Homo sapiens: one gene and its partner. The protein of the gene in region 1 purifies or fractionates together with the protein of each later gene. This does not show direct contact. Each region holds a gene or a part of one and is shown in the gene's direction. Other genes may lie near its edges.

Region 1 (2,364 bases):
CGTTCAGTAAGAAACCACAACTCAAGGTGCATCAGCGAATTCACACGGGAGAAAGACCTTATGTGTGTTCTGAATGTGGAAAGGCCTTCAACAACAGGTCAAACTTCAATAAACACCAAACAACTCATACCAGAGACAAATCTTACAAATGCAGTTATTCTGTGAAAGGCTTTACCAAGCAATGAATTCCTAGTGCATCAGCATATTCATAAATGAAATATACTCCGAGTTTCTTGAAGAAGAGAAAATCTTCTCAGAATCAGGTCTAATTATATGTTATTGAATTCATGCTTCAGAAAAACTCTAGGGATGCACTGCATGTGTGAACACATGATAAAAAAGTCATGCTTTATTTTAGTGAGGGCAATTACAGAGAAAAGAGTAAGCAGAAATGTCCTTCTGAGTACTGGCCTCATTAAGGATTATAAATTTTCTCCCCGGGAAGAAACCCTGACTAACGCATTGAGAAAAGCCTTTCTGTAAAGAATGGTACAAGACAGGTTGTTACTCGATTATTTATAGTAAAATATGTGGGAAATTATATCAATGATAACCCTGTTTATTGTGGGATATCAATATTTTTAAAGTGCCAACACAGTCATGATAGGACAATATTTTATGTGTGTGTGTGCGCCTTATGTATATAAGCATATATATAATATATAAGCATATTATTATATACAGGTTGAGTATCCCTTCTCCAAAATGCCTGGGATCAGAAGCATTTTGGATTTCAGATACTTACAGATTTTGGAATATTTGCATTATATTTATTGGTTGAGCATCCCTAATCTGAAAATCCAAGATTAAATGCTCCAATTAGCATTTCCTTTGAGCGTCATGTTAGAGTTCAAAAAGTTTCAGATTTTGGGTTTTCAGATTAGGAATACCCAACCTGTATGTACGTATATTTCTGTATCTATGTATGTATATATATGCATATGCAGACATATGTATATGGTCTGGTCAGCATATGTGTATGTATGCGTATGTATGTATGTATGTATGCCCTCAGTGCAGTGGGGTTTGCTGCAGAATTCACTGCATAGCAGGAGATGTAAGCAGATGAGTTATTTTTTAAGAGAATCTAATCTAATTGTTTTTATAAAAATTATTCCCTATTGAATATTTATATAATGAGGTTGTATCAACAATGATTAACTCCTTTATTATACATACACATGAATGTGCATTTTTGGTAAATGCATAAATGAGATTCTATAATGTTTACTGATCTTTATATTACAGATTTTCTCTTCTTTTAGGATTAGCTCAGCTTGCCCCCCCTTTCCATCTCCACCATCTATAGTGAGCCTCTCCATAATTAGTGCCAACCATTAGTCTCGTTCATATTTTTACACCAGGAGTCAACAAACTGTGGCCATTGGCCAAATATGGCCTCCCAACTGTTTTTTTAAAATAAAGTTTTATTGGAACACAGCCATGTTCATTTGGACATGTATTGTCTGGGCTTCTTTTGTGCTGCACTGGCAGAATTGAGTAGTTTTGGCGGAGATCAAATAGCCCCCAAGCTGGAAACTGAAAATATCTACTCTCTGGCTCTTTACAGAAAATGTTTGCCAGCACATGATACACACACAAACACACACACATACACACATATTACTATGTTCATCATCATATACCTGTGTAAGTACTCTTTCATTGATTTATAAAACTCAGATCTCTTACGTGTGTGGATGGTATTTTTTTCATTCTACAATCCATGATGGATTGTACACACGTGTATTCTATGAGGTTGACCTGCCATAATTTATTTAGCCATTCCCACAGTTTTGATTACTTATTTCCTCCCCACACACATTTTTTGCTAAAAAACGGAGAGGGAACTGTTATCAATACTTCCGAGAAGCAGACCAGCATAATCTTTTAAGTGCACAGGCCCAGGAGCCAGGTTCCTGCATTTGATTCCTGGCTCCACTCTCTACCCTCTGCATCTGCTGAGCAAGTTATTTGGTCTCATCTATTCTGGTTTTCTCATCTACAAAAGGGAGATGATGATAGTACCCTACCCCCATGCATTTGGTGTGAGAAGTGTGTGTGTGTTAAACCCTTGGAACTGCATGGACAGACCAAGTGCTGATGAATTTTAGCGGGCCTCGTATCCCTGAGCCTGCCTGGTTCCCTTGTGCTGGGTGTGGGACTGTGGTGGGAGATTTCTGTCAGCTGGAAGTCTTTTCCAGAAGGGTGTTAGAGATGGGCACCCATGGCTTTAGTCTCCATACCCCTTCAAGGTTGATAGGGGCCCACACAGCTGGTCAGGAACCAGCACAGACCTCAGGCTGTGTCTAAAACAAGGTGACTGCACATGCAGGAGCCTGTGCTGGGCCCTGGAGAGCAAAT
Region 2 (4,175 bases), on another chromosome or scaffold:
AGGAGTACAACTTTGTAACTTAACTTTAGCCTCTGATTGGTTGCAGGCTACTCCTTAATTTACAGAGGGTGTAAACCAAGTAACCAATGGGAAATCTCTAGCGGATATTTAAACTCCAGAAAATCCTGTAACCAGGGCTCTTGAGCCACTGGCTGGAGGCCATTCCCACTCTGTGGAGTGTACAGTCATTTCAATCTCTGCTTTCCTTGCTTCATTCTTTCCTTGCTTTCTTTGTGCGTTTTGTCCAATTCTTTGTTAAAAAAACCAAGAACCTGGATGACTTGTAGTCAAGACCCTCCATGGGTAACATTGGGACTATACAAAAGCCTTAGAAATCGTGGAATGATTTTTCAACCACATTATCTGATTCTAATGATGAACAGACCTGTAGACCGGTCTGAATCTTGGGATTTGCCTATCAAAAAACTCGGCTTTCCCTACTGCACAGGTCTTCAGAAGCGCATGTCTAACAAGGCTAATATTCCATCATCGGGATCAAATTGCTCACCGGATAGTAAAAAGACACTACAGAATTTCAGGGGTTCTCTGCCAATGAGAACTTCTGAATTATGTAGAACGGATCAGCTACTAAGCAGTGTTCTATCTTCCTACTCTTCTAATCGATTGTCATCCCTTAAAGCGCTGCTAATTCTAGAAAACAATCTATAACCTGTTAGAATCAGCGCAAGCTGGTGATGACTACAAGTCCCATGATGCAAAGTATGAGCACGGACCAATGTTGGTCGCAGTTCCTTCTGGGAATTGTAGTCTTCTCCTGTTTGGCAAACTAGGTATTGTAGCCTCCATTTCTCAGAAGTTCAGTTGGAAAACTAAAGATAGTGCAGAGAATGTCGATTTCCTGCCACAAGATTACATTTATCTTCGCTACCTGAGCGCCCAGCCGATCAACTCCAGTCGCTCCTCCGGTGGGCGGGCGCCCATGCCGTGACATCACTTCCGGCAGAGATGTGTGTGTGACGCTCTCTCTCTCTCTCTCTCGCTCTCGCTCTCTCCCTCGCTCGTTTTCTTTCTCTTTCTCTCTCTCTCTCTCTCTCTCTCTCTCTCTCTCTCTCTCTCTCTCTCTCTCTCTCTGTCTCTCGCTCTTGCCCTCTCTCTCTCTCTTTCTCTCTGTCTCTGTCTCTCTCTCTCTCTCTCTCTCTCTCTCTCTCTCTCTCTCCCTCCCTCCCTCCCTCCCTCCCTCTCTCTCTCTCTCTCTCCCCCCCCCCCCCCCCCCGCCCAGTTCGGCCCCTCCTTCCACACAGCAGGGATCTTGGGCCCGGGCAGAGACTGGCTGAGGCGGGGAGCAGCTGCTTTTGGGGCGGGGGTGTCACGTGAGGCTTCTCGCTGCTGAGGGAGGAGGCGAAAAGCTGCGGTTAAGGAGAGTCCGGTTTAACCGTCACCGGGAAGCGCGCTCGTTCGGGATCGCCGAGGGGGCTGAGGTAAAGACTGGGTCATTACCTCAGGACAGGCGGTCGCTGTCCCGGGTTCTCGTACGGGTGACACCTGCAACCTTGATGTCTGGCGGGCGGCAAGGGGCTCCGCGGGAGAGTGGAGAGGCGCCGCAGGAAGCCCAGCCACCTTCAGGCCACCGCCGACCCCACTGTGCGTCTGGGAGGCGCTGGGCGCGCACCGGTCAGCGGAGGCGGGAGAGTCTGTGATCCCAGGGAGCTGCGGGTCTCGCCGCCTGCAGTGCGGAAGACCCGTGACCGGCGCAGACCCCGGCCTTACCTTCCGAGGGTCGAACTGTGCCTGGTATTTGCCTCTTTCCTCCCGCCCACGGGGTTGCTCAGAGTCGGGCCACCTCACCTGAGGTTTTCCAGAGTGAGAATGAACTGAGCGTCCTGGGAGCAACTCCGCATCAGGGTAGAGGCGAAGACGCTCCTAATGAGCACAGCACGTTTTTTTGTTTGTTTGTTTGCTTGTTTTGTTTTTTTAACGCTTGGGTAGCGCTCACATCTTCGGACGTCAGTGGTTGTGTTGATATGTATTGATATGCGACCTCCCCCCAGCCAGGCGGCCTCAGGTAGTAGAGTGGCAAAGGCCAGGTAGATCCCTCGGACCTTGAGAAGGTTGAGATTTCAGACTTACTTGTTTTTGGGGAGGCCGTCAGGCGGAACCGAGGAGCGGTGAATCAGCAGCTAAAGTTTCATGAATCTTTGATAATGGGGAAATGTTGCCGAGAGCCACTTGAGTTAAAAATCTTTTTTTTTTTTTTTTTTGAGACGGAGTTTTCCTCTTGTAGCCCAGGCTGGAGTGCAATGGCACGATCTCGGCAAACTGCAACCTCCGCCTCCCGGGTTCAAGCGATTCTCCTGCCTCAGCCTCCCAAGTAGCTGGGATTATAGGCCTGCGCCACCATGCCCGGCTAATTTTTGTATTTTTAGTAGAGACGGGGTTTCACCATGTTGGCCAGGCTAGCCTCGAACTCCTGACCTCAGGCGATCCACCCGCTTCATCCTCCCAAAGTGCTGGGATTACAGGCGTGAGCCACAGCGCCCAGCCCAGAGTTAAAAATCTTATTTCAGCATCTTTCCAAGTCCAGGTGACTCATTTCTTACCTTTCCCACCAGTAGAGTTTCGTATGAAAAGTTGGGCAGTTATTGTTGTGTGTAGTCTTGTCATTTTGTTGGTCTGTAGTTGTTACAGTTTCTTATGAGTTTATTATTTAACAAAGTAATAGTAAACCATTTCTTCTTTGTGTTATGATACTATTCTGACACAAGATATACTGGTCCGTTTGATAACAGATTCTTGAGTGTAAGTTATAAAGATTTAAATACCCTCAGTTTATCGTAGAGCAGAATTAGTGATGACCTGTAAGCTGTGAAGAACGGTTACAATTTTCACTATTTAATTTTGTTGCATATAAGTTCAGTGTTCACTGGGTTTTATTTGAGTAACTTGACCAAGTGTGTATTTTTAATCCTGGGTTCTATAGAATTATACTATGTAGCATCAAAGCATCTGGTTCATTGTTACTACTCTGTGTAAATCTTTATAGTTTCACTAATTAAATTGAAAGGTAATGTGAATAGATTTCCTCCCTTTCTGATTAAATCCAGAGGTAATGTAAATAGTTTTCTTCCTTTTCTTTTTTCTCTCTTGTACTGAATGTAGTACTGTCAAGATGATAAGCATGGAATAAAGCTTCAGAAGGGTCTTTACCAATCTTTCTCCTACCAACTTTTACATACATGAAATCAGGTTAAAATGAACTTTACAGAAATACTTCACAAGGGAATAAAGTAGAGGAAAAAGGGATAACATGTAACATGGAGTCAAGGAAAAAGAGTGTGAAGTAGTTTTGCTCTCTCTATCTTGCAAATAGGAGTCCTTAAAGACAACTGGGAGAAGGGGTTTGAGGTATGTTTTCATTCCAAATAAAATAATAGTGTCATAAAATTGAAAAGAATACTTTTCTTTTGAATCCTGCTGCACATTAAAGACTAACCTTTTAATATGTCCTTTTCATTTTTAGATAGTGAATTCCTAAGAAGAAAATAATGGATTGCATATTAGTTGTTCTCTAAGTGGACTCAACAGTGTGCAAGCTTGTTGGAAAAGCCAAAAGAAGATGGCAACTCCTTATGTCCCAGTTCCTATGCCCATAGGAAACTCTGCTTCCAGTTTTACAACAAACAGAAATCAAAGAAGTTCTTCTTTTGGCAGTGTCTCAACAAGCTCAAATTCTTCTAAGGGCCAGTTAGAAGACTCAAATATGGGTAATTTTAAACAGACAAGTGTTCCTGATCAAATGGATAATACTTCATCTGTCTGTAGCAGTCCCCTCATTAGGACTAAATTTACAGGTACAGCTTCTTCCATTGAGTATTCTACTAGACCAAGAGACACTGAAGAACAAAATCCGGAAACAGTGAATTGGGAAGATAGACCATCTACACCTACTATACTGGGTTATGAAGTGATGGAAGAAAGAGCTAAATTTACTGTAAGTATTGACTTCTGCTGTATAACACTACAAAGTGAAAGATTGGCTAATCTCTGTGTTCAAACCAGTGTTAAATTAATGTAAACTTGTACTTATAATTTCTTGAATATGAAATTCTAATGGTTTTTACACCACTGAATTCTATCATGTTGTAGTAAACTTTTGCTTTACCTTAATAAATTTTCACAAACCAGACACACCTATGTAACTATTAATAGCACATAAA

Evidence for each region.
Region 2: the proteins of ZNF175 (region 1) and SNX16 purify together in Homo sapiens (affinity purification with mass spectrometry; one large-scale study listed by BioGRID and IntAct). This does not show direct contact.

Annotation. Positions count from the first base shown.
Region 1 is NC_000019.10:51,588,283-51,590,646, forward strand, and holds part of ZNF175 (zinc finger protein 175), read left to right. Parts: coding exon 1-185; 3' UTR 186-2,364.
Region 2 is NC_000008.11:81,839,386-81,843,560, reverse strand, and holds the start of SNX16 (sorting nexin-16), read left to right. Parts: upstream 1-1,375; 5' UTR 1,376-1,439; exon of another isoform or gene 1,440-2,023; intron 2,024-3,117; exon of another isoform or gene 3,118-3,363; intron 3,364-3,478; 5' UTR 3,479-3,574; coding exon 3,575-3,949; intron 3,950-4,175. UniProt on the Homo sapiens protein: May be involved in several stages of intracellular trafficking. Plays a role in protein transport from early to late endosomes. Plays a role in protein transport to the lysosome. Promotes degradation of EGFR after EGF signaling.